Linked DNA regions of Homo sapiens. The protein of the gene in region 2 interacts with the protein of the main gene of each other region in a pairwise test. Each region holds a gene or a part of one and is shown on either strand. Other genes may lie near its edges. The genes, in order: CTBP2, NEK6, NIF3L1 and GRIP1.

What was found.
Region 1: the proteins of NEK6 (region 2) and CTBP2 interact in binary tests that used the Homo sapiens proteins (3 or more experiments, as listed by UniProt).
Region 3: the proteins of NEK6 (region 2) and NIF3L1 interact in binary tests that used the Homo sapiens proteins (3 or more experiments, as listed by UniProt).
Region 4: the proteins of NEK6 (region 2) and GRIP1 interact in binary tests that used the Homo sapiens proteins (3 or more experiments, as listed by UniProt).

The regions. Positions count from the first base shown.
Region 1 is NC_000010.11:125,150,538-125,157,563, forward strand, and holds part of CTBP2 (C-terminal-binding protein 2), read right to left. Parts: intron 1,745-7,026; exon of another isoform or gene 1,669-1,744; intron 1,298-1,668; exon of another isoform or gene 1,237-1,297; intron 1-1,236. UniProt on the Homo sapiens protein: Corepressor targeting diverse transcription regulators. Functions in brown adipose tissue (BAT) differentiation. Isoform 2 probably acts as a scaffold for specialized synapses.
Region 2 is NC_000009.12:124,260,949-124,267,974, reverse strand, and holds part of NEK6 (serine/threonine-protein kinase Nek6), read right to left. Parts: intron 6,882-7,026; exon of another isoform or gene 6,807-6,881; intron 6,508-6,806; exon of another isoform or gene 6,392-6,507; intron 5,060-6,391; exon of another isoform or gene 5,030-5,059; coding exon of another isoform or gene 4,957-5,029; intron 4,951-4,956; exon of another isoform or gene 4,475-4,950; intron 1-4,474. UniProt on the Homo sapiens protein: Protein kinase which plays an important role in mitotic cell cycle progression. Required for chromosome segregation at metaphase-anaphase transition, robust mitotic spindle formation and cytokinesis.
Region 3 is NC_000002.12:200,892,371-200,899,396, reverse strand, and holds part of NIF3L1 (NIF3-like protein 1), read right to left. Parts: coding exon 7,018-7,026; intron 6,152-7,017; coding exon 5,989-6,151; intron 4,134-5,988; coding exon 4,007-4,133; intron 2,322-4,006; coding exon 2,183-2,321; intron 13-2,182; coding exon 1-12. UniProt on the Homo sapiens protein: May function as a transcriptional corepressor through its interaction with COPS2, negatively regulating the expression of genes involved in neuronal differentiation.
Region 4 is NC_000012.12:66,676,051-66,682,953, reverse strand, and holds the start of GRIP1 (glutamate receptor-interacting protein 1), read left to right. Parts: upstream 1-3,877; 5' UTR 3,878-4,049; coding exon 4,050-4,104; intron 4,105-6,903. UniProt on the Homo sapiens protein: May play a role as a localized scaffold for the assembly of a multiprotein signaling complex and as mediator of the trafficking of its binding partners at specific subcellular location in neurons.

The DNA.
Region 1 (7,026 bases), on a different chromosome or scaffold from region 2:
GCCACAGAGAAGCCAGAGCCAGGCGAAGTTGGTAGTAACTAGCCAGACTTAATTACCTAAGCTCCCTGGCCCTGACTCTTCATTGGTAAAACAGTGACTAACTATCACCTGTGCCTCTGCGAGGACAGCGCTGTGCTTGGCCAGGGCTGGAGAGCCGATCTCAAGGCAGGTGTCTGGCCTTTTCCCGGACATAGTGAGTCTGTGATCCAGAGTCTGACCCACGTATTCAACGGGGCCTGCCTCACTTCCTGCTCTAGGATGTTTTACATTCACTGCACTTTTGGAGTGAATATTCACAACAGCCTGGCTCCTGTTTGGAAGCCTGAGGCAGGCCCCGTTGAATACGTGGGTCAGACTCTGGATCACAGACTCACTATGTCCAGGAAAAGGCCAGACACCTGCCTTGAGATCGGCTCTCCAGCCCTGGCCAAGCACAGCGCTGTCCTCGCAGAGGCACAGGTGATAGTTAGTCACTGTTTTACCAATGAAGAGTCAGGGCAACGCAACAACACACAATGGCCCAGCGAGCTAGTGCCAGACACTAAGTAAGTGCTCAAGAAATGGTTGCTCTCTAGTTACTTGAATAACAGGTAGAGCGCACTTGAATGGCTGCATAAGTTTCTGGAGCACCAAATTAAGTCTGCAAAACATAGAGGCGAACACAGAAATTCCTCCATGGAGAAGACGAGGGCAAGACGAAACGGGCCAGATCGCACCGTCCTACCACTCTGCGCTCGGACAACCTCTAGTCACATGCCTCGCCAGGCTTCAGGTGTTGGGAGCCGCCGGGGTGAACAGCAGAGAACGCAGCAGAGGCGCGCAAATGTCACTCGTCCTCGACGTGGAGTTCTGCTGAAGGTCTCAGTGGCCCTCGCTGTTTCCCACAGCAACTGCCACTGCGCTATTTGTACTACAAGGAAAACACCCAGATTCGAAGGTTATCCAAGAACCGTGGTCACCCCCAAACACTGCCCAGGAGACGAGATCCCAAGCCGGTCAAGTGGAAATGATGCCGCTGTTTACCGTTTGCTTGCAACTCAGCCACCATCGCGCAGTCAATCAACGAACCTCACCACTCACCACGACCCCAGGAGTCCCCATGAGTGCCCGGAGTCCGCGACCGCTGCGGGGTGGAGGCGGCTCTGGCCTGGTGCAACCAGGTCCCCGCCCCTGCTCTGAGCCTCGAGTGCGGGCTGGGGGCCAACCTGGTGTCCCGCGTGGTCTCGAGGCTCCTACCTTGCCGGGGCCTCGCGGACCGGAGAGGGGCCGGCGACCCTGCTGGCTTGAGGCGGCGTCTAGCTGGACCCCCGCCGCCCCGGGTCCGAGCGGCCCCGCCCAGCACAAAGGCCAGCGGGAGGAAGGAGGAAGTGGGCACGGAGCGGGGGGAGGGGGCAGGGCCCATTCTCACACCTCTCAACGACTTCCCCGCGGCGGGAAGCGGCTCCATTTACAAGTGTAAAGGCGAGGCGCGAGGTGGGGGGGCCCGGGGGTGTCAGATACCGCGGCCCGCGGAGGGGCCAGGGTGGGGCCGCCAAGTGCCCTGCGGGGGGAAGAGGGCACAGCTGGGGCGGGGCCGCGCCGCCAGGTGTTCTGGCCCGCGGGGGCGGGGCCTCCAGGTCCACCCGCCGGGAGGAGAGGGGCGAACCCCAGGGATGGAGGGGGCTTCACCTGGGGCTCGGGAGCCAGGAACCCCGGGACCCCGGGACCCCAGAAGCCCGGACGCCAGGAGGCCCGTCCTTGCAGCAGGGTGGGGCACCCCCGCGGTCCGGGAAATGCAGGAGACCCCGCCCCCTCCAGGTAGAGCGCGGCCAGGTGTGGCGGACTGGCGCTCCCCGCAACAGAAGGTCGCGCAGGACACCGGAAGTCGTCCTGGAGTCAGTCTGAGCGGATCGCAGGGGTTCCAGGCGCCCCAGGCCCCCCACACCGCGAGTCACAGGAACAAGGAGGAAAAACAGCCTCTTTATGACTTGGGGGAGGCAATTCAATATTTCTTCCTGGCATAAAATAGGAATTGCTCTATTTACCCAGCCCGCAGGAGCGTCGTGAAGATTAATGACTGTGAAATGTTTTTAAGATCAAAAACATTCCCAGATTTTACTTGTAGGCACTTATATGTGCATATTGGTATCTGTACAGCAAAATATACTCTTTATTGATTGCCCTCCTAGTGTGACTTCTATTCCGTAATCTGAAAGCCCCGAGATAAAGGAATCAGGTCTGTCTCTGCCTGCTCCTGAAACACTAGGAAATATGGGTAGGAAATGTCAGGTCAGCTGGGCATCTACGCTGAGCCTCTATCCAGTCCGCAGGGCAGATAGAGCAATCCAGAGTGCGGACCACAGCTGAACGTCTGGAGAAAGGGAAAAAACTTTAAGATTATTGGTCACCCCCCACTGGGAAGAAAACACAGTATCCTCCCCAGCTCATTAGGAGGTGCTCCCAAAGCCTGAGTCTCCATCAGGGTCTCGGGTGTTTGCAGAGCCTTGGCTGGCACTGGGAGCCAATGGTCAGCCAAGTTCTGCCTGTGCCAGGAGCCCACGCAGCCCATCTGGCCCGGCAGCTCCAACAGCAAGGCCTCCCTGTTCCGAGCAGAGTAAGGCCACATGACCGCACAGAGGACAATGTTGGGCTTCCCAGGGGTGTCTCCACTCCAGGCTGAACATTCTCAGTTCCCTCAACCGTTCCTGGGACATGGCTTTAAGAGCTCTCTCGGGCCCTGCCCGCTGCTGGCGCTGGCTGTACTCCAGGTGGGCAGGCCTGGGAGCTGGCTGCAGCAACACCAAGTGGGGTGTCCAGGATCCAGATGGATTTGCAAGCACTGCCCCCACCCGTTCCCTTGGTCTCCCTGGACCTGAACAAGCAGCGGATAAGCCGACTGTGTTTGCACTTCTAGACTGCACGAAAGACCATCCATCAGCAAAATAATAAACTCACAGCTAGAGCTCATTTAAAAGGAAAGGTGCACAAACTCCTGGCCTTTCACCCCCTCCAGCAGAGAAACCTCGAATGCTCTGTTTTCCCCTCCAAACTCTTCTCCTCTCATTTCCCCTCTCCACCCTCCCGCTGCCACACACACACCTGCGGCAGGTACAATACTATCACTTCCAGGTTAGATTCTGGCCACTTACACCATAAAATGATTCTTTGCTAGCCTCATTTTATAGATGAGATTTTTAAATTCCATCTTGGAAAAAGAAAAGCCCCATTAGGCCAGAGGAGTTGATCTCCCTCCACGGTCTAGGTCTTCGGTTCCTTCCAGAGAAACTTCCTCAGGTTCCATGACTCCATAATAAAGTTTTTGTTTGTCCTGGGACGGGACAGATTGCTGGAGGCCAGATTTCAGGCATGGCTGGAGCACAGCCACGATAAGCTGGACTTTACAAGCCCTGAGCTTGCTTGTGCTGCAGGAAGACCTACACACACTGTCTCTGTGACACATCCTTTAACGTGGCCCTTCCAGGCTTCTGCCACAACGTGGGCTGGAATGAGACACAGAAATATTGCCACTATTTCCAGACAATCTTTAAGGCAGCTGACAGTTTCTTTTAGTCATAATTAAGGATTTGTTTTAATGCAAGAAGCACATTTCTGCTGATCAGAGGAGAGCTTTGGAGGAAGCACAAATCAGCAATACAATGGAAGGTAAGTATTTTTGTATTTTATAAATGAGAAGGATTTTTAGAACCCCACGGATGAAAAGCCCAGCCCTCCCTCTCCCCCCTCACCCCTGCCTCCAGGGCTTTTCTGGACTCACAGAAGGCAACAAAACCAAAGGCAAGGCTGGCCACCACCAGGATCAGGGGCAGACAACAGCAGCTATTCAGGGTTCCCATCCTTTAAACACCAACCGATCTTTGGGAAAAACGAAGTCTCTATTATTACCTAGGACAAAAGTCACAATTCTCTATAGAAACAAAATCATCACTTGTCCCATTCATAAGATCCCAACCATTTCATCACAATTTTTGTGAATATTAAGCCAACTCTAGGCAACCATCTGTTAAATTTAGTTAGGTAAACAGCTAAAGCAGATCACTTTCTAAAACATTCACTGAGGGAGGGACTAGGCATATACACATGCAAACTACAACTGGTTCTCACCGAGTGTCGTTGCTAAAAAAACTGAACAGGCTTCAGACACCAACAATGGTTAATGATCTACATATTATCTACATATTCCACTTAAGGTGAGGGTTAGAAAGTGAGGGGCCAGGAATGCACCTCCCTTAAGCTACAGAGTTGGTTCCACTTTGGGACCTCGGCTCCCACGTGGAAGGAGAAGGGCTTTGTGAATGGGGGAGGAGCTTTTTCCGAAATGGCAGCAGCTACGCAAAACATGAACATCCAGCAAAAACTTATTTTAGCTGCATTCTCCCTAATGCTACCAACAGATTAAAAACTACTTTAAAGTCAGGAGAGGAGTAAAAATAAACACAACTTCCTCCTGTGACTTAAGATGCCTCCTTTCTGAAGTTGAATATCATTTCCTAAAATCACATTTCGAGGGGGTAGAAAAGGTCTGTTTACTTTCCTTGAGGAACTCTTACTATCTGCCGTTAAAATCGTTCCTCAAAAAAGCAGATTACTGAGAAGAGAAAGCACACGACGTTCCTTAGCAGTCCAGAAAAGACCACCTTCTAAGAAAAACTCTGGAAAGGGGGCAGGCCAAATCTCCATGCCCGGCAAAGACGGATGAATGTGCCCCTGGTTCCCATCCCGTCCACAGCTCCTGAAGTTTCTGTGTTCTCCAGCAGTCAGAAGAATGAAGGCGAAACTAGCCCTTGGCTCCCATGGTCAACATTCCACACAAACAATGGCCTGGCTCTCTCCCTATTGTACATTCTGTATTCATTTGTGAATCCCCCCTTTTTTTTTTTACACAATGTGCAAAGCCCTTCTTTTCACAGGCGAAGTTCTGAATGCCCAAGTGCAGCCATAATTTAGGCTTTAAACATTAATAATGATAGCTAAAAGCAAACTCCAGATTATGCCCAAACATTAATTTGTGAATATCATTAGAGTCACACTGATGGCTTTTGGATACTCTCCATTAAATCATGATCAAAAGGGCCACTGAACACCTTTAAAATGGTTCTTAAGTTTTTAGCAATTATTAAATATAATTTTCCAAACCCCAAGATAGGATTAAAAAAAAAAAAACTCTTTCATAAGTCTTTGATACATATTCCATCAAACACAGACTTGAATGAAAATTAACTTCAAAAGATGAGGTGGGGAGGAGAAGCCTTGCATTTTCCCTTCTTTCCAGGAGTGCTGTAACTTTAACTTGCAGCAGCGTAAATTAAGACATGCTTACCAGCTGTAAGGGAGAAAACTGATATCTGCCAGGCCGCACAGTCTCTAAAAGTGTATCCATTCCAGCATTTCATGTGCCCACTAAAAGTTTTCAGCAGGGTAAGTTCACACAAGCATTCCTCCCCTAGCAATTCATAGAAAGATTGCTGGGGAAAAGACACCCCGAGATTTCACCACATGGGTCACTTCCATTAAGTACAAATACTTCTTTTTCCAGGGACAGACACACTGCCCTCCCATTTTTTAGTTACTACAAAAATATGTTCCACCCTGTGTAACAGACCTACCATCCCAAAGTGGAAATATTACCTGAGCTGTGCCCTGCCCAACTGATAAATTTCCCTTCCCAACCATGTGCTGTATGAATATATATTTGTGGCCTGATTCAGGGCCACAGGACACTAGGGCTGCTGCTTTTCCCTGATAGATTAACAGAGGGACCCAGGCTGCATGCACATACATTATGATGACAGCCCCTCTCTATGGAAATGACAGTGGTAAAAAAATGACAACTGGGGCTGCCATTCTACCATTGCTGTAAACTCTTTAAATTTTTTCCATTTAGGGAAAGCGTTAAGTGCAAAGGGTATAACTTTGCTTTCAAAAATGATTCATGATGTTAGTGAACTGTTGGCAAATGGCATTCTGGTGCTAGATCTCAGCAGGGCTACTCCCTCACTCAGAGGTGTCCTTTTCGGTTTTTTTTCAATCCGTGAATCTCAAGGATTTCAAATAGTGTGAGCTGTTTGTATTTTAACAGCAATGGTAACAATAAAAATATCATTTTAAAATCCAGTGCACTGCTTGTTCAGTACATACTATATATATTCATCATTTCTTTGCCTTGTAGCTGGCTACTCAGAAACTAAAAAGTTGTAGGTTGATTTTCTGGTTTTGTTGTTTGTTGTTGCTGTTTGTTTGTTTCATTTAATCTCTCTTTGAAACATTTTCCAGACTTAAAAAGTAAAATTTCTGGAGTTTTAAAAGTTAAGACTGAAGTTATTGATTATTCTCTGAAAGGGTAACTGACAAACTAGTTAATAATTATACAGATAGCAAGTTTTACCGTTTCATCTTGTGTACACGACCAGATTAACAATGGCAGGGAAAGCACACACAACTTGGCAGGGACAGGAACAGGTGTGCCCCGACTCTCAAAAGGCCAAAATATCTCACCAAGTATGTCACTGGCGTGTTTTTTACAATGGCAGTAGTGTTTGTTTTTAACTAGCCAAACGTTCTTACTTTCTTAACTTTAGAGAGATGTACTTTACGAATATCTTTCTCTTCACGGAATTGATGATTCAGTTCCACACATAAATTGCAACTCGTGCAAGGAAATGATTTTTAGGGACAATGAGGCTTTTTAAAATCAGTTAAGAAAAGGTAATTCACCCTGCCCCTCCCCGCAGGAGAACACCCATTCAAGGGTCAGTTTCAAAGCTCCCAGGCGAAACCGTAAATAACTCACAGGGTTCTGCATTCAACCTGCAGACTCTTATTAAGGTACAATTAGAGAGGGGGTTGTCAGGTGGGGGTTAAAAAAAAAAAAAGAGCGGGGGGGAGTCGGTATTCTTTACCTTATCTTTCTGAACAGGAAAAAGAATTAAACCCAAACCACCTAGTCAGGTTCAAAACAAGCTCCAAACCCAAGATCTTTTAATTCCCTCTAATAACTGCTTTCCACAGGGATGTAACTGGGGTCCCCTA
Region 2 (7,026 bases):
CTTCTACAGATCACAGCCCGTTTGGGAGTTTGGAAAGTGGGGCCATGATGTGTCTCACCTACAGGTGATCAATGTCTGAAGACACAGAACACCATAAAGGTCTGTGCGAGTGAAAGGTGTTAGCTCAGAGTACAAGTATTTTCTCTGCATGTTTCCCCAGGAAGACGGGGCAGGGACCTCATCTGATTCCTGTGTGTTTCCCCAGGGGCCAAGAAGGCATGTGGTGCTCAGCCGTCCCTTGCTGAATGGCATCATGAAACCTGGTCACAGGGCTTCCTCATTTCAGGGTCCCAGTGGCCAGCTCAGGGGCGGCCCAGCACCTGGTGTGCCCATCACCCCTTGGAGAAAACCACAGAATGTTTTCCAAATGCCACGCTGTCACCACTAGGCTGGCTCCAAGAGCAGGCGGCTCCCACACTTGTCCCAGCGTCTGCACAGACAAAAACCCAGTCCTCATTTCCTCTTGGGTTAGGTAAGGAGGCTGGCATTTAAAACACACACAAAAGGCCACTACATTCCCGGAGGAGACGAACAAAGGAAATGTACACACACTGACTCAGTCCGGCACGCCGTGCCCACTCGAGGTCCTGTTGTAACTGAATCCAGGCGGACTCGACCGGACCTGCCAAGCCCAGGGGCGGACTCCCTCTCCTTTGCTCTCTTCTGTGTGCCATGTGGTGCCCAGTGATCCTGCCATCTGGGCACCCACGCTGGTGGCCCGCCAAGGCCACATCAGCTGCAGAATCTTTCCTCTTTCAATGCTGGGTTTCCTACTTTCTAAGATGGGGTGTAATCTGGGGTCCTGCTCATTTGCCAAAAAGTCATGTCTGTGCTCAGAGGTGGCTTGGTTAGCCTTTCCTCAAAGCAACCCCAAAAGATATGCCCTCTAAACAAAGTGTGTGCTTGGTAGAAAATGCAGCTTTAAGACACAGCACTGACCCATTCCAACCCAAAGCCCTCCTATGCAGACATGTGGGAGCTGCCTCGGCAGGGAAGGGGCATAGGAAGGAGAGCCTGTAACTCTGGGAGGTAGAGCCCTTCTGGGCTTAGGTTCCTCCTCATTGGAATAATTCGAGGATGAGCATTTCTCTAAGAAACCTCTTCTCCCAGGGAAGGGCCAGCTCAGCTCAATACAGCCCTGCACAGCCCACTGAGGGGAGTGAGGAACGTTTGCTAACAGATTCGTTCACTCCATATAAACATTCTCCAAGGATCCGGCCGCGTGCCTACTTAAAACTTCCCATTCACTCAACAAATATTAATTGAGCTCCTCCTATGTGTCAGGCACAATGCTGGCCATGGAGAACACTGTTGTGGTCCACAGACCAAGTCCCATCCCCTTCTAGAGTGCATGTTCAGTCTGTGAGGCAGGTTACAACTATGCGATGACAAGACGGATGCTCAGGGGCCCTGGCATGGTACCTGGGTGCACACTGTTCCTTCCAGCTGCCTGGGGGCCCTCACACAGGTCCTGAGCTGGGCAGCTGGTCACTTCCTGAGGGCACATCCTGGTCACTTCCGGAGGGCAGCCTCTGTCCTCCAATTTTCAGCTCAGACCCCCATGCTGTGGGTGTCCTCACAGCACTCAGGCTGATGCTCGTCAAGCACCACAGATCCTGGACTCTCTGGGTCTCTGTTTCCTCATCTATAAAATGGGCAGAACGATACCCACATCACGGCATCACTGGGAGGATGAAGTGAGTTCCCTCAGGTTAAGGGTTAGATTAGAACATGGCCCACAGTAAGTGCCTGGTAAGGCCATCTACCGACAGGAGCAAAGGCCAAAGAAGCAGGAGGAAGTTCCACAGCCCCACCTCTCACCCACCGGCCCCACCTGCCTCTCCACCTTGGGGTCTACCTGCCCTTCACCCCAGCCCTCTCAGCCCTCTGGCAAACCCCACGTCTCCCTCCAGGTGGGTTCAAACACCCCTCACTGCCGGAAGCTCTCCTACTTCCCCAGAGACTACATCCCAAAAAATGCCACCTGCAAATTGATCAAGAGCACCTAAGAAGGGGTTGTGACAGCCTCTGTCCCCACCAGGTGGTGAGAGGCCAATGGGTGGGGCCATTAGAGGGTCTTCGTGTGGGCTCCCAGCACAATGCCTGACCCAGGACTTCCATCCGGACATACGTCATGAAAGAATGAGATAACGTGCCACACACCAGCCAGCACAAGCATCTCTGGTTAGCAGAAGGGAGTCCACTTAGCCCATAGGACAATGGACGGTCTGTGTTTTTGCATCAAAACTTTTCACCCGCAGTCCAGGCCCAGGTGTCACAACCAGAGCCTTGACCTGAAAGCTGGGACAGTGATCTGATTTAGGCTACAGAGCAGCAGGCTGCATGTGGGACCTGAGGCTGGTCATGATGTCTCTCTGGGCCTCAGTGTCGCCATCTGTAAAAGGAGAGGTATTTTTTTTTTTAAAGCAAGACAAACTTGTCTTTTTTTTTTTGAGACGGAGTCTCACTCTATTGCCCAAGCTGGAGTGCAGTGGCGCCATCTCGGCTCACTGCAACCTCCGCCTCCTGGGTTCAAGTGATTCTCCTGCCTCAGCCTCCTGAGTAGCTGGGATTACAGGCACACGCCACCACGCCCAGCTAATTTTTGTATTTTTAGTAGAGATGGGGTTTCACCATATTGGTCAGGCTGGTCTCAAACTCCTGAGCTCGTGATCCGCCTGCCTCGGCCTCCCAAAGTGCTGGGATTACAGGCGTGAGCCACCGTGCCTGGCCAAAACTTTTATGTTTAACATTTTTCTCAGATATATTTAACCACTTTAAAGCAAACCGCTGGATGGGATGTATTACAATCACAATGTTGTGCAACCACCACCTTCATCCGGTTCCAAAACGTCTGCGTCACCCCAATAAAAACCCATGTCCCTTAATCAGTCGCTCCCCAGTCTCCCCTCCCCAAAGGCCCTGGAAACCACCAATCTGCTTTAGGTCTATGTGGATTTATCTATTCTGGCTACTTCATGTATCTTAAAATGACTCCTATGCAAAACCTCCTTATGTAAAACAGGCAACAGGCAGGTGGCTTTGCCCCCTTCGCCTCCCCGGAGCTCACGTTCCTCATCCTTAGTGGCCTTTCAGGGAAAGCTCTGATGCCAGGTGCCATTCTTTGCAGAACTCTTTTTTTTTTTTTTTTTTTTTTTTTGATACAGAGTCTCGCTCTGTTGCCTAGGCTGGAGTGCAGTGGCACAATCTCAGCTCACTGCAGCCTCTGTCTCCCAGGTTCAAGTGATTCTCACGCCTCAGGCTCCTCAGGCTCCCGAGTAGCTGGGATTAAAGGTGTCCACCACCACGCCCAGCTAATTTTTCGTATTTTTAGTAGCGATGGGGTTTTGCCATGTTGGCTGGGCTGGTCTCAAACTCCTGACCTCAAGTGATCTGCCCGCCTCGGCCTCTCAAAGTGCTGGGATTATAGGCATGAGCCTGTCCTGGTCTTTGTGATTTTTACACTACCTTTTTTGTCACATGGTACCTCTTAGCAGAATTCTAATCCTAAAGTTGAATTTCTAAGGCAGATCACCCCCAAGGGTGCCTGAGGATCACGGGGCTGGTGCCTGGTGTTACTGGCCCGTTTTCCGGATGAGGGAGTAGAGGCTGGGCCCCTGTGAAGCCCTCCTTGCATGAGGTGACTACAGAGGAGTGGACCTCCAGAGCCTGGTGACACCCTCTCCCACCACACAGACTACAGCTGGGTCTAGGGTGTGACGAGCTGGCAGAGAAGCCGCCCCAGAGCGATAGCCACTTCCGGAGGACAAGGATCTCTCCACCGGCTCAGGAAAACAAGCCAGTTTAAGGGAAACCCAAATGGCTTTGGGGGGCGGGGGCATAAAATGTGCAGGACTCCCTCAGGCCTTGCCATGCAGACCTTTTCAGGAGGACTGCCAGGGGAAGACGGCTGCTCACTTCTGCCCCACGGCCAGGCCTGTGACAGCCGCTCCTGTCAGCGCAGTCCTCTGCGGGGCCGACGCTGTGTAAATAATTAACAAAACATCTGCCTTGCTTCATAACACACCGTGGCTGACACAGCTCTCAGGGCCTTCAGAGACCCTCCAATGCCACGCCGAGGACTTATGGCCTCGCTTTGTGGGGACAGGTGGGAACGAGAGCAGATACTGACAGGCAAACATTTTCCTGAGGCGCCACAGGGCCACCCTGGTGCTTAAATCCTGCCTCTTTGCAAACTGCGCTGTCTCCTTCCCTTCCGTTTTGGGAGCCATGATCCTAGGAAGGTGCTCTGGTGGAATCCAGAGGGGTCCCCGGCACCTGCTTCTGGCCTTGTTTAGGGCCTCAATGCAGGGGCACTGGAGACACTCTGGGCCACGGACCAAGGGTCCCGGCTGAGTGACCCTGGGTGGGTCCTTGGTCATTAAAGATTTTCCATGTCTCTCATGTAATCTTGGGGAATGAGCATCAAGCACTTAAAAGGCGCTGAGCATCTGAAATGCATTATTTCACTTACTTCCTCCCCCGAAGCTTCTGAGGTCATAATATTATCCCTGTTTTCCAGATGATGACGCTGAGGCTCAGTGGGCGACGTGCTCATGAGAGGCAGGTCTGGGACTCCAGCCTCATTCACTCCATCGGGTGCCCAGGCTCAGGCTCTCAATGCGGCTGTGGGGGAGCGCCTTGCTCCCTCTGAGCCTCAGGTTCTGTTCCGTGAAACAGATGGGTGGCAAGAGTCCTTCAGACTCCAAAAGTCCACAATAAATAAACCCAGTGCTCGTCTCAACCCCAGTGGGTGTGTGCGAAGCTCTCTGGATTGGGAGCCCAGTGAATTCCTCATCAGCAGCTTGATTCATTAGAGCTGAAGGTCATGTGCATCCATCCTTTTGCAGGTGTCTTCCCAACAAGCCCAAGTTTCAAAGACGTTGAGGACAAGGAACAAGAGAGGGCAGGCATTCGAGAAGGGGCCTGTGGACTAATTCCCATACTGCCACTCACCTGCAGTAAGAACGCGCCTCTGGAACATGGAGAAGTTCTTCTTAAAGGGATCTCTGTTCACCCAGGTCAACATGACCCACCCCGCAAGCCTCAGCCTAATTCTGAAGCATGAGGGTTAAACAATTCGGGGAAAATGCAGGCACTGCAGGCTCTGAATGGCAACTTCCCTCCCCCTTCCCCTGTCCAAATTCCTTCACACTCTATGGAATTCCTACATAAAGCCCCTTTTTTCTTAGAATTCTATGAGGTCACCACCATGCAGATGTCTAAGAGAAAGAAAGAACGGCTCCGTGCAGATCCAGGCCACTGCAACTGAATGCATTTCAGATCTCGGCCACCCCATCTTTCAATTCCCATGGCCCCCCCACTCGCCCAGCCACAGCTACAGCGGTGGTGGCCAGTCAGGTCTGGTGGGGTGCTGTGATCCTGCCCTTGCTGGAGGCCAAGAAGGCCTGGCTAGAAGACCTGTGCCTTTACCACCAGATCACCCGAGAAGTCATCTGTGGAAAAATCCAGAATTGGAGACAATGGCGCAGCCATGTATGTGGGGGTCTGTTTCCACACAAGCAAGTCCTGTTAGAGGGACACATGTCAAAATGCTAGCTCCCACTCCAAGTTCAAGTTCCCAAAGTTAACATCACAGGAAATTACACCACCAACTGATTTGCCCCAATGTCGGCTCCTCTGTCTGGAAGTCGAGTCTGAGAAGGCCATTGGTTTAGTTCAGCTTTGGCCAAAGGAAGGGACCAGCTCAGACAGGAATGAGTGAAAGTGCTGGCCTGATTTTTTTTCTTTTTAAACTAACATTTTCCCCAAAAGTTATCTTGCCATTACCCAAGAGTCATAAGTGAAAAGACAGCCAAATACCAAAAAGCCACTGAGGCCCTCAACAGTGCCTGCTCATTTCAAAGCCATTTCACGGACAGCCAGGGGGTGCCTGGGCCACCGCAGACCACCCCTCACTCCAAGAGCACTCCTGCTCCCCAGAGCTCCATGTTCCATGTAAAGTTCCACGGCATGTGCACACCACTTCCTAAGAATGATGTCAGCAAAAAAAAAAAAAGATAAAAATGTGGAAAAAAGGACTATTTTTACCTCCCCAAATCACAGGCCAGACGGGAGAAAAATCCATCAATGCCAGAAATGTGGCTGAGCCTTCGCACAAGATCTATTATTTCACACCTTAAATTAACGCATCTCAAAGCAATTTGCAAATGTTCGTCAATTTGCAGAACATACATGGAAGGGAGAGAAATACCTTTTCCTTTCAACACCGAAGGACACTGGCAGGGGGGCACAACATGGCCCAAACCACACAGGTCCTCACACACAACATTCATTTCAAGCACATGTAGTAGAAGCCGTGATCGAAATGGAAATGAGCAGGGAAAAAAGGCAGGCAGGGGACTTAAATGACAAGTGACAAGAAGCCTACCTACAAGCGATCTCGCTGTCAGATATTTAGGACTGTGAGTCAGGCCCGTGAAGGTGACATCAGGGGGCCAGAACACCGGACTCTTCCTGCGAACAGTGTCCCAGCCTCATCTCCACACAAGCCTGGCAGTGCCTGCCCGTATTTAATCTTGGATGATTCACCAGGTCCCTCCACTCTCCACCCTCCAACTCCCTTGCTTGGTCTAGCCTGAGAAGAGGAAGGAAATATTCTTCTCCTTTTGACAATTGTTTTGACACTTCCCTTATGAAAAGTATCTGGGGCACTTAAAGAAAAGAAAAAATGTGAACAGCAGCCCTTTCTCTCCAGTAGCTCTGGCCCTGGGCGAGGAAGGCCAGCAGTGCCTTCTGGAAGACCTCTCCCAGGTCTCGGGCAACCCAGCCCTGCAGGAACCTAGCCTGTCTTAACCTACTTGGCTTTGCAGCATGCAACAGGAGCAAAGCACGACAAAGGCAGCCAGATGTGGTTTAAGGTGAGGAACTCTGGAATCAGAGACATGGGTTCGAATCCCGACTCTGCCATTTGTGGGTTTATGACCCTGCCCAAGTTACTTAACCTCCCTCTCTGTAAGATCAGGAAAACGACACTGAACCTCAGCACAGGCCAGGCATCCAGCC
Region 3 (7,026 bases), on a different chromosome or scaffold from region 2:
TGACTTGAGACTCTTCAAAACAGAGGAAACAAGAGACCAATACTTTACAATTCCCTTTCATTTTACTATTATAATTTGTACCAAGAATCCTAAACATAATACAGATTTCACTCCTGGTCTCATCACCAGTATATGAATTGTTCTTACTGCATTTTAAAAAAAACATGTTTTAATATAAGCAAACAGGTCATTCTTTGATATTGCATAGCTAACCCAAGGCATGGTTATTATTCCTTTGTTGTGTTTTTTTTTTTCAACAACCTTTGTAAATTGCGCAAAATACGGAACAATGCACAAATTTGCGTGTAATCTTTGCATAGGGGCCATGCTAATCTATATCATCCAATTTTTAGTATATGTGCTGCTGAAGGGGGCACCGTTATTCCTTTGGACATGGCTGCACAAACTCACAAACCACTGAATAGTACTAATGGTGCAGCTCTAGGCTGTATTGCAACAGTGCTAGGTAAAATAATCTCACCTGGGTCTTCAGACAACAGTGAGAGGTAAGCAAGTACTATCTCTATTCTCAGGTGAGGAAGCTAAGGAACTAAAAGGACTATAAAAAGAGGAATGCTACAAATGGATTTGGCACTATTTTTAAATATACTATTTATTCTCAAAAAGCATCCTCTGGAAAGTGAAATAACAGCAACTTTCGAGCCAAAATCCAAGTATTTAGCACTTGGGTTTCTAAAATGAACACTTTAGTGGACACTCCAGTTCAGCAGCAGGGTATCTCAAAGAGGGGGCTTTGGAGTTATTTTGGAAGTCAAATCCCACCTCTGCTATCCATTTTCTTTGGACACTAACTCCCTTGGGTTGTTTGATCTAACTGGACTTTTAGATAAGTTACTGATATGGTTTGGCTCTGTGTCCCCATCCAAATCTCACCTTGAATATAATCCCCATAATTCCCACGGGTCAAGGGCGGGACCAGGTGGAGGTAATTGGATCATGGGGGCAGTTCCCCCATGCTGTTCTTGTGATAATGCGTGAGTCTCACGAGATCTGATGGTTTCATAAGCATCTGGCATTTCTCTTGCTTGCACTCATTCTCTCTCCTGCCACCCTGAGAAGAGGTGCCTTCCAACATGATTGTAAGTTTCCTGTGGCCTCCCCAGCCATGCAGAACTGTGAGTCAATTAAACCTCTTTTCTTTATAAATTACCTAGTCTCAGGTATTTCTTCATAGCAGCGTGAGAACGAACTAATAAAGTTACTTATCTCTCTGAACCACAATTGTTCACCTATAAAATGGGAGAAATAGTACCAACCACAAAACTAACAACAGCTAGCACTTTATACTTAATGTGAGCCAATCACTGTGCCATGTCACATGGATTATACTACCACCTTCTGAGTTAGGTTTTATTAATGCAGTTTTTACAGATGAGGCTACTGTGACACAGAGGGCATAAACTTGTCAAAGACATGCAGCAAACAGGACAGACAAATCTGAAGCCAGGTTGTCTAAGCTCAGAATCCACACCTATAACCGCTGTACCCCACTGCTTTTGCCAGCAGGAGCTCACGTACTTAGGACAGACAATCAGTACAGTGCTAGGCTCACTGAAGGTGTTGAACAAATGTCTGTTCACTCTTTTTGTTCTCAAAAGTACCAGGAAAGGCCAGAAGAAAAAACTACAAGACTTAGAAACTACAATGGATCAGATCACTCAGTAGCACCTCACTAGAAAATATTACCAGTCTTATAAGTGCAAAGTTTATGTTGTAATTGTAGCAATCATGATTCCAGCTCTCTTCCTGACACATGGTAAGACTGCACTTTATGCCTCCCTTGCTTGTATTGGGCAACATGACTAATTCTGGAAAATGAGTTGAGCAGAAATTAACATGTTTCCTGGAATTTTAAACTGATGGTTTAAGACCCTGCAAAACTCCCTCCCTCTGCAACAGCAACCAGTCTACAATGGTCAGACTTCCTACAATGACCAACTTGAAATGAACACATAGCATGACAGAGAAATAAATCTCATTGATTAAGTCAATGAGATGTATTCCACATCAGAACCTGGCCCACCCTAATCAATAACGTAAACCAATTATCTCCTATGAGCTGCTAACACATTCTCTATCACATATTAATACAACCAAGAGTTTCGATCTTTGTCCAATGTTAACAGTAGGCATACTGGATAGATGAAGGAGCTATATTTACCTAAGGTTCTCCCCACCCCAAGGGCTAAGCGAATATGAGATAGTTTTAGGTGTCTTTTTATTCGATCAATCATGGTTGCCAGGGAGACAGATTCATCCAGTGTGCATAACCGTCCCATTCCAGTATGTAGAAGCAAAGGCTGAGGAGAAACAGAAGTTAGAAACGGTGTGCATTGTTAGTCCTAAAACAACAAATGCTAAAATCATCAACATGCACACTGTGAGATTACTATAGCAAGCTCCAGGCTAAATGTGGGGATACAAACCTGACAAAATCATTCTTCTAGGAGTTCACAGTTTTCTAGGAAGGCAGATGTTTAAATCAATAATCAGGCCAGGCGCGATGGCTCATGCCTATAATCCTAGCACTTTGGGAGGCTGTGGTGGGTGGATTGTTTGAGCTCGGGAGTTTGAGACCAGCCTGGGCAACATAGTGAGACCTCATCTCCACAAAAAAATCCAAAAATTAGCCAGGCAGTGGCGTGCGCCTGCAGTCCCAGCTACTTGGGAGGCTGAATGGGAGGTGGGCTTGAGCTACCCAGGAGACAGAGGTTGTGGTGAGCTGAGATTGTACCACTGCACTCTAGCCTGGGGACAGAGCCAGACCCTGTCTCAAATAAACAAAATAATAAAACTGTTTAAATACAAGGTAGGTGCTACAGTTGCAGCAGCACAAAGAATGACAAACTAAATGAGCTGTGACTTAGGAGGCTTGGGGAGTACTTGGAGGAAGGACTTAGGTCTTAGAGAAAACCCTAAAAGAGTTAAAAAGGGGGAAATAAAGAGTTTAAAAAGGGGTGATGTCAAGTGCAGTGTGGCAGGACAGAGGTACGATGAGATGGAGAAAGGCATTCTAAACACAGAGGACATGGACAAAGGTGCCAAAAACTTGAGAGAACACACTATGGGGGCAGATCCAAAAGAAGACAGTATGGCTACTGTGCAGAGTACATGCTGTGGAAGGAGAGGAGGCTGGAGGCCCAGGCTGTAGCAGATCATTAAGGGCTTCCAACACCATGCTAAAGAGCCTGGACTGCCTCCTAGGTGCTCGGTGAGACTACTCTCATCGCAGAAAATGAGAGTTTCAACTACTGTGGTGGCAGAGCCAATACAGAGGAGAAACACTGTATAGATATGAGGCCAGACTCAGCAGGGCCTGGAGTCAAGGAGGAATGTGAAAACTTGGAAACTAAAGTAGATAATGATACTGAAATATGAAATATGGAAAAAAAAAAAAGCGGGGGTGGCAAACGGATAAAGTATTTGGATATACTGAATTTGAAATACTTGTGGGCTCTGTAAGTGCAAAACATCCAGAAAGTAGATGAAAATATGGGTTCTTGTCATTTTTTCCCTTAAGAAAGCATTCTAAGCCAAAAAGTAAAGATAGAAATCATCATACAAATGGCTATCAAGTTAAAGAAGTGAATGACATGGTCCAGGCAGAGCGTGTAAAATAAGGAGACAGCAAACCTGTAACCAAATCTGTAACCCTGAAGACGTACCAATATTTTCCTGTTCCTGGAATGTCTCCCTTTCTCAATTACTTCCTAGAGAATATTATGCTCTCATTGCCATTTTGTACTTTAGATAACAGTGAATGGCCTGTTGATCTAATAATTTACAAATGAATTTGCTGAAGAAAAATGCAAAGTAATGATATTCATCAAATTGTACACATCAAATATGTACAATTCTTAGTATATCAATTATACCTCAATAAGGTATACCTCAATATACCTAAGTATATCAATTATACCTCAATTATACTGTTAGAAAATGTGTGCACAGTATTTTAAGATCAAATACAAAATATTCTTATTACCTTCTCCAGTGACAGAATTTCCGTCTTCTGATAAAGTTGTTTGTTCCGGGAAAGAAAATCTACCACCTGCATCAAAGCCTTCTGAGTACAATTCAGATTAATCCGTGTTTGTTCCTCATTACCAGTCCTAGGGGGGAAAAATCACTCCATTTAGGACAAATATAGCCAAAATGTATTTTAGATAATCCACAGTTTACAAACCTACTATAATAGATTAGATTTATGTGGAACCAAGGATTTAACCAACAGAACCCATTTAATCTGAAACTAATCCATTTTCTAGAATAGCATTTCTCTAACTCTACTGGGCATCAGAATCACCTGGAGGATTATTAAAACACAGAGTGCTGGGCCCCACCCCTGGAGTTTCTGATTCATTATATCTAGGTGGGGGTCTGAGAGGTTACCTTTCTAACAAGTTCCAGGTGATGCTGATGTTGCTGGTCCAAGGACCTCACTTTGAAACCACTGTTCAAGAACTGTTCTCAATCCCGATTGTGCATCAGAAATTTCTTGGCCAGGTGCAGTGGCTCACATCTGTAATCTCAGCATTCTGGGAGGCCAAGGTGGGCGGGTCACTTGAGCCCAGGAGTTCAACACCAGCCTGGGCAACATAGCAGGACCCTATCTTATTATTTTTTTAATTATTAAAAAATTAAAGTTAAAAAAAAAAAAAAAAAGAAGGCCAGGCACAGTGGCTCACACCTGTAATCCCAGCATTTTGGGAGGCCAAGGTAGGTGGATTACCTGAGATCAGGAGTTCAAGACCAGCCTGTCCAACATGATGAAACCCCATCTCCACCAAAAATACAAAAAAAATTAGCCGGGCGTGGTGGGGGGCGGGTGCCTGTAGTCCCAGCTACTGGGGAGGCTGAGGCAGGAGAATCACTTGGACCTGGGAGGCGGAGGTTACAGTGAGCCAAGATCACACCACTGCACTCCAACCTGGGCAACAGAGTGAGACTCTGTCTCAAAAAAATAAAAAAAATTCCTTCTAGCTTCTTAAAATAACAGCTGCTGGATCCTTCCACAGAACCAGTGAACAGAACATCTACAAATGGGGCTGGGGCAAAATGAATTTTTTTAAAGCCTTAGAGATGATAATTTTAAAACATCATTGAATTTGAGAATGTCCTGGACAGATTCTCAGGCAAACTCCATTCTAATTATAAGGTCTGAGGTGAATACAAAAATCTGCATTTTTTTTTTTTTTTTTTGAGACAGAGTCTCTCTCTGTCTCCCAGGCTGGAGTGCAGTGGCGCGATCTCGGCTCACTGCAACCTCCGCCTCTCGGGTTCAAGTGATTCTCCTGCCTCAGCCTCCTGAGTAGCTGGGATTACAGGCATGCGCCACTACGCCCAGCTAATTTTGTATTTTTAGTAGAGACGAGGTTTCTCCATGTTAGTCAGGCTGGTCTCAAACTCCTGACCTCAGGTGATCCACCAGCCTTGGCCTCCCAAAGTGCTGGGATTACAGGTGTGAGCCACCGTGCCCAGCCTGGGAGTCTCTTAAAACAAACAAAAAAAGACTATTCAGAAAAATATTTCCCATGATGTTAAATAAAAAGACTGATTTATGAAAATATATATTTAAAATGTAAAGATAAATATAAAAAAGCACTTGGGAATCACTGATTTGCTGGGAACCAATAAAAGCCTTATCACCACATCACTAGGATCTATCTGTATTCTCTAAAGTAAAAACAACTATCTTTGAACATTACCAGGATTAGAAATACTGTAGGTAAAATGCATAGTATAGTCCCCTGACATAGAAAATACTTAGTGTTACTTACCGTTTTTATTGTTTTGAAAAAATTCCATAGTTCTCCAGGACCCACAAACAAATGAGGAGTATGCTACTTTGTAAATCAACTCCAGAGAAAACTATTTGTTTCAAGCCTAAATACCAGGGTTATAGACTTTGTAAGGAAGATGCTTACCAATAAATACACACAAAAAAAAGAGAAAAATAAATTGTACCTAGCAGAAAAAGAAGTGACAGAAACACCGTCAATTCCTTTCACTGCAGACATGACTTTGTCCAGGTCTTGGGTGTAGTTAACGTTGAATTCTACTCGGTGGTTTCCCTCTGTAGGGTAGTTGGGAGCTTTGGAAGGATGTATGGGCCTGGAGGTACAAGCTCCTAGAGAAAATATTGTGGGAAAATGGGAGTTTTGGGGGGTGAGAGATTAAGATTTAAAAGTAAACTATTATAGGCAAAATTTCTAAGAAATGACTTTTTAAAAAGATTCATTCTCATGCTTACATAACATACACACATCCCTTAGATATACATCACCAGTCCCCATAATCTAGGGCTTTGGCATGGACATACAAAATCAAATTATTTTCAGAATTATTTTCCAAAAGATTCTTAAATCTCTGAAAAACTTGGACAAGAAAGACTGATTCATACATTTTCAGATAATACACAGAATGGTCTACTGCTTGGTAAATCTAGCCATGTAAACCATCATTCAGGTTGCAAATGCTCATACTTTATTTGACCACATTAATCCAGATATCATCATAAAAGCTTTAGCCCAAAATGAGTAAACTAAAGACTTACTAAAATAAAGCTAAAATCCATCCATCATTCCCTCATTGTGCTAGGCATAAGTAAACATTCACTAAAAACATTCATTAAAACCCTGATGTCTATTTACTTGACTTATCAATCAAGTGTATTCTGGAGAGGCCTGAGCTTTCAATTCAACAAGCATTTTCCAAGTGCCTGGGTGACAGGCATTGTGCCACAAAAGTGAGGAATCATGAAGCTCAGTCCAGTAAGGAAGACTTCTGCTCTCCTTACTCCATAAGAATAAAAAATGTTTCCTTTTTCAAATGCAATTTAACTGCCAAATTTCAGCAACATTATTTTAAAATTATTATATAAAAATGGAATCATGCCCTCCCCAACCCTAAAGCAGTTAAAACTTTACTGGAAAGACATCCTAAAGTTTCAAAGTATTTGCAGGGAAAATATCAAATATGAAAGAGGCTTCTCACCAAGCCCTT
Region 4 (6,903 bases), on a different chromosome or scaffold from region 2:
GCAAAGGAAAAGAAATGTAATAGTTAAATGAATAAGCAAATAAATGGGATCTATCAGGTATATTTTGTAACAGAAAGATTTATGAAGTTGAAGAAAGTGCAAATTATTTTAGCACTTTAATCAAATTGATTCTAATGATATAAAATAGTTGAGTATTTGTGGGATTAACCTCATTGTTTTGGTTTTTTGCAAAATGAATTTCCAGGTTTAGGCATATGGCAGAACATTTTTGGTTTATGATGATTCTTTCTTGTTAAGAATCAGAAGAACCTCCAAACAGCGCTATTTATTTTTGGGATGGAGATGTTATATAAAAGAATGAATACAATGGCGGAGAATCAAGGAAATGAGAAAATTAGAATAAGATTATGGGGCTATGTGTGCCACCTGCTGATGAAGCTGTGGAATGCTTTGGTTTTGAGACTATATTGGAATCTTTGAGCCAATCTTAAGGTTTTGTTTGTCCATACACCACAACCCACCCCCTTCTTATGATAAAATTAGTACCATATTGTCAATGGAGGTGATATTCCAAATATTTCAAAACCAGCATGACACAGGCCAGTCAGGATGGGCTAACCATGCAGTGAGAAGGGATTCCTGTAAACACTTGATACGTAATGGTCTTTCACCAGACGGTACTTGCCTTAACTGTCACCTGTTTCTGGTTCCTTCTGGTCAGGGTGGTCCTAGAACCATGAGCTGTGCTTCAGAGGGGAGAAGGTGATAGGCACTAGTTTTTCCCTCTGTCAAAAGATAACTGCACTTAAAGGTACTTTGTTAATTGAATTTGTCCCCCTGTAAACTAGATCACATTTTGTATTGGTGGCAAGGAAGCAGTGAAAAACAAGAGGAGAAAGAATGATTAGCCAGGGGTGAGAAGCTATGGTTCTTTCCTGTTCTTTACCACTTACTAGCTGAATGACTTTGATGAAAAACACCTTCTCTGAAACCAGTTTTCCTTTTCTGCATCAAAAACCTATAACAGAGTCGCTCCATGATACATTATGTGTGAAAGTGCCTTCTAATTCATTAAATTCTATGTAAACGTGGTACACTTGTATTACACCTTAGCAAAACTAATGTTTTAAAGAAACCCTGAAATAAGAATTATCATCTTAAGGGACTAGTCTGCCCTGAATCCAGCAAACCCATGTTTTCATGTATTGAGGTGTTTGTGTTTTTAAGAGGGGTAAACCTCTTGAACTAGCTCACTCACTCTTCTTCAGATCACATTGGGGCTTAATCAAATCTGTATTTTGTACAATTTTACCTGCCTTCTTTTTCCATAACCCCTACTTGGTGACCCTCACAGAGCATGTTGTAAAGTTTGAACTGTCTAGACAGCTGAGCCACCATAATTAACATGTTCATGACAGGTCCCAAAGACACATGCTTACATTGATCTGGTAGCCAAGAAATGTAGGTCACTCTGCCTTGTAGTAGCTCATGTTAGGAGCCTGTGGTCCACATTCCACCGGTTGCCTTGGCCATTTGAGACCTTCATCCTACAGATCGATACATTTTGAGATAGAAGGCTTGCATTGTTGGAAGGCATTTTACCAGTGCTAGAGTTCAGGATGGGAGGCTAAGCTTGCATTAGGCAAAGGGAGGACAAAGGGTTTAGGGCAAGAAGGTTGACCTGGGAGTGGCTCCCCAGGAAATCTCCAAGCATTAGCGAGGCCAGAAATGGAAGAAGATGGGAATACCTGGTGAATTCGTTCATTTTCTGGAAAAGAATTACTCCAGGAGGCTCCATTTCTGTAAGATTCCTGGGGCTGCACCTGGGCAGACTAATAGGATAGATATGGATTGGCAGCCACAGTATTCAAAGAGAGAAAAAACAATCCCCTAGTTTGGGCTCTCAGAAACCTTTCAAAGAGCTCCATGATGGGTTATTTCCCCTGCCAAAGAAATAGGACATTTTAGTAGTTCTGAAGACCTTTCTTGGGACCAGAGGATAGAGCTTTTAAAACAAAACAAAAAAAATAAGCATATTAGGAAAAGGGGAAAATATTTGATCATTTTAGTCATAAGGAAAAAGCAAATTGGATTTGAGTCTGCAAAATAGCAGAAGGCAAGAGATTCCTGTATGGTTTTGAGTTGTATTTGAATAGACTGGGCTGGGGTGGTGGTGTTCCACAGGCAAGATTCTACTAATAGTAATTGACAGCTGCGTATTCTGAGTGCCTGGATTTTAGGAAATATGTTAGATTTGGAGAAGAATCTTGGAAAGAGCTAACTGTAAGTATTTATCTCACTTTAGCTAGTAACTCAGTTCTCTAGTACTAAGGTATATTTCTATTTAAAGCAAAAAAATATCAAGGAGGCTAAACTATTTCTAGGGATAACCTAATAGAGATGAACATAATATGGGTTGAAATTCAAAGAAAGATTTATGCTAATCAGAACAATTATAAAAATTTGATTTTGCACTGCAGTCCATTTAATATAGTATTTTCTATTGATTAGTGGTTGCTTTAGCTAGACCATCCTTGGTAAAAGAATTCTGTTCTTTTCAAAAACCTTTAAAGTAGATGCTTATGATATTCAGATGTTTTTCACACACAAATTATTTTTCTATTGGACTCAAAATACAAAGCATATGCATTTCAATAGCAGTGGATTGAAATTGTTTGAGTTCATATTGAATTTATGAATGAAGAAAAGAAAGTTTTACCACTAAATTTGGAATGTTGGAAGTTATTTTAAAAACCAGCTTGAAAGTTTTTTCACAGCCTGAAGAGTAGAGAATAAAACTGTATGAATAATTCATAAAGTCCTAGAAATATTAATCAAGTAGTTTAGACAGTGATATATCTTTTCATTTTGACTAATTGATTTTTTTTTTCTTAAACTTCCTGGCCAACTGTCTAATTTTTTGTCCTGAATGTTTATGTTAACTCCTGTGGGAGAATTCTGGATTTTGATTAAAATTCCCTACCAAATGTTAGTTCGTATTGACTATATGGCGAGCAGGCTGCTGCTGGCAGATGAGGAGGTGTGCTCCGCCTTCTTATCACTTTGTGAATGGATTGTGAAGGGTTTGTTAATTTGCTCTTCACTCCATTGGAGCAGATACTCACAAATATCTGCTATGTCGCAAGACCGTTTTATTTGCATAATGAGAAGAATGGTTTGGGGGATGGTTGTTTGGGAAATAGTATAATAAAGTATATTAAAAATAGAAATACTTGGCCTTGTTTGCCTTTATTTCTGGTATCTTTAGAAACAGTCTTGACTGTGTTGCTTTCCAGCCAAGTCCTTTTTTGGAAGGGTGATTAAAGGGGCTGGGACTCCATCTGCCTGATTGTCTGCCTAGCCCTAACCCTTTCTTGTATTCCCTCTATAAACAGACACTGCCTTAACTCTCATAGGTTCAGGAAGTACCAAAGAGGTCTCTGTCCTAGAGCTGCTTCCCCGCTATAGGCAGAACTGTGATTCTTTCCTCAATCCCAAATATAAACGGCCCTCCCTCTTTTTCTTTCCTTTTTTTTTTTTTTTTTTTTGGTTGTTGTTTAAAGAACATAGTACATGACCCATGCATTTCTTCCTAAAGTAAGAGTGTAAGCATTTCACTTGCATTTCCCATTAAATGAGACATATAAAGGACACTGACTTGATGCTGAGAAGGAAAGGGGCTGATGGTGGCTGAACTGACTGGATACATCGCCTTTTGCCTTAAACAGAATGCACTGTTCAGTGCTTAGCGTTAGATTTATGGAATGGCTCCTCACACAGTGTCGTCCCTGCTTTGTACAATTTGGTGCTTTGTTGCTATCGAAACGGCATTACTTTCTAAGCCATTGTGATTGTGAAGGGGGAGGAGGCTGTGGCAGGCAGGGGTGGTAGTAGTAGTGAATGACACAGATTTGCCAGATGACATGTAGCGGACCTCTGCATCAGCCAAGAGGAATTAAGCTTTGTCACTCCCCACTGGGACTACCTTTCTCCTGGTATGTGCGCAAGGAATTCATATGCTGCTGCTGCTGCAGCCACCAGAGCAGAGAGCCTTGAGTACACTTTGCCACAGAAAGCAGTGAGCAAGAATGATAGCTGTCTCTTTTAAATGCCGTTGTCAAATTCTGAGGCGACTTACTAAAGGTATCGTGCTTTCCTTGTTATTCCCTCAGCGAGTCTGTTGCAGTATCCTATAAACACAGTTTAATGGTTTTTACTTTCAAATATGACTGCCTTTGCAATTTATTGTCAGGCAACAAAGAACTCAGTGAAATATGTATAGATACATATGTACAGGTAGACTCGGCTTTGCTTTCTGTCCTTACATCTCGGTTGTGTTCGTGCTGAAATTATGAAAGCAGCTTGTGTGATTTTTTTTTTAATGACTTCATTCTTTGCTGAAAAGAGAATGTGTTTGGGTCCGGTGCTGAAGTTATTGTGGGAAACCGTCATTTTGCATGCTGATTAACTGGCCAAAAGGAGTCAAGTGTGTGTTACTGTCCTTTCTATGATACATATACTAAATGCAGCTGGCAGATTCAGGACTCGCACAGCTGGTGGATCCACAGAATAATTGTTTGTTCTATGACTTTCCAACATCTTAAGAGCTTTTTCCCTGGACAGCTTTAATTTCTTTATGTGTTAGAATTGCATGTTCAGAAAAGTATGTAATTCCAAATGCTTTGGTCCTATGTAATACTAGAAGTTTATTTGAAAGTAAAAATCATTGCTCGGAATCTTATCATCAAGAATTACCAGCTTCAGATTGTCACTCTTAGAACTCTAAAATAGTAATTAAATTTCTCTGTAATATTTAAGGTATTATTTTATTTGAAACCATTCTGGATGTGCCATCTCGTTTACTTTGTGAGCATTCTATTGCAAAGTTAGTAAATGGATGCCTTAAAAATCCTGCCTTGTGTCCATATAGATATGTGAGCTCTCTTGCCTTATTTCCTTTAGATAGAACCTTCCTTAGAGAAAATTTATTATTTAAAAAAAAACTTCATTCTGAGTAAAAGTATTTAGTTGCAAATGCCTTTCTTTTTCAGCCTGTAATATAGAGTACTGTTGAGTAATTAATGGATATAATTATGTTCTAGAAGCTCTGAACCTATAAATATGTTAATGGATGCTATTTCTGTCAGTTTAGCTTGACATATCAGAATTCTTTGATCACCAGCAGTGCAGCTAAAAATGCAATTAATATTTTATCTGGCAGAAGAATGAGCACAAAGCAAATCATGAGAAATAGATCTTGAGTCAATAACAGGAAAGAGAATAAATACTGTAGACCAACTTACCGAATGCATTTGCAAGTTGTTTGGATAGCAGAGTGAGTCCTTTAAAAGGTACTTTGGGGGAAATGTAGGGAAGATTATACATTTTAAATTAGGCTATTAGCAGGAGGCTGTAAATTCTGTTTTGACTTTATCCTCTACAATTGGTACAGACGTACAATTTCTGTTTATAAATCATGACTAAGAGACTATCCTTTCTGTTACGGTTTTGGCTGAGACTTTTAAAGGCAGGCCCTTATTCTGAAAAGTTCTTTTCTGACCTGATTTTGGCATTTACTTATCTTGATGTTGAGAAGTTGATGGTCTTCTTACATCATAAACATGAAACAATCAGTATTTTCTATTCATCTGTATCAGTTCTTTTATAAGTACTACATACAAGGAAGAGAGTGAACCCAAGCAATTTATAGTTCTTACAAATATTTTTAACTTTCTCAGTTTTCTGAATTTTATGGAAGCATTGATCTCCTGCATTGAAAGGAGATTTAAGTGTTTACTAAGATAGTCGCTAAAAATCTAGATAATTGAGGAAAGTATTGATAACTGCTTTGGAGTTGCTACCTCACACTTTTTTCCAAAATCTTTATGTCTGCTCTATTTGGTATTTAACTTAAGACTGTCAGTTGATGATTAAAATAAAATCTCTTTGCAGAATCAATTTGCCATAATTGGGTTCTTCTTTGTGTTTAACTGGCTGTCCAAATACTTACAAGAATGCACCTGAGTAACACGGTACCTTGCCTTGCCATCTGCTTCAGTCTTGTCCAACAACGTTCAAGTTCCACCCATGCTTCTTGTTCCAAAGTGGATTCATTGAGTTCTAGCACCCCACCCATACTTGTGGTGCTGTTTTCTTAAGCTGTAATGATAAAACCAGGAAACATATGTAATTACAATATTAAAATGACCTTTCTTTTAGGGTCAGGAGTGTATTTGGGGACAGGGGTGGATATACACTTGAAGTTTCTTTCTTGTCCCATTCTCCCTACTCACACAACTCCCACACCCTCACCCTCAACTCCCAAACATACATATTTCTTTATACCCATTGAGGGCTCCACCTAACACTCACTCTTCCAGACATTTAGCACAAGGCATTACACTTAGTAGGCACTTCAAAACTGTTTGTTAAAATGAATTGGATTTGTCTAGTTGAAAGTAGTAGGGCATTTAAATCTTCTGTGAGCTCTTAGGAAATGCTTCAAGAGCTTTATTAGGCCTCTTGTGGCTAAAACCTTACCCAGATCTTAGCAGGGGGAAGTTTGCTTCATGACTCCAAAACTACCTTGCTATTTGTGGTTGATATCACCCACAAGAAAAAGCAATATGGCAATTGCAATTTCTTCTTAATTTTCTTAAGGAGAAAATGATGGAATAAAAGGGAAACAATTTTCTACAAACACCCACATTCTTGATATTTTTACTTGATTCTTACATTCTTCATATATCTAATACATACTTAACAAATATCGATTAAGTACCTACTATGTGCCAGACACTGACATTTTTGCACTTAGAATTCTGGGCTGGGACAATTTATAGGTGTAAAAAGCATTTTTAAAATGAATATATTATTGAACAATAAATATTTTTTCTTTAGGTCAGATGTAATTTTAAAAGATGTATAAAACATGTATTTCTA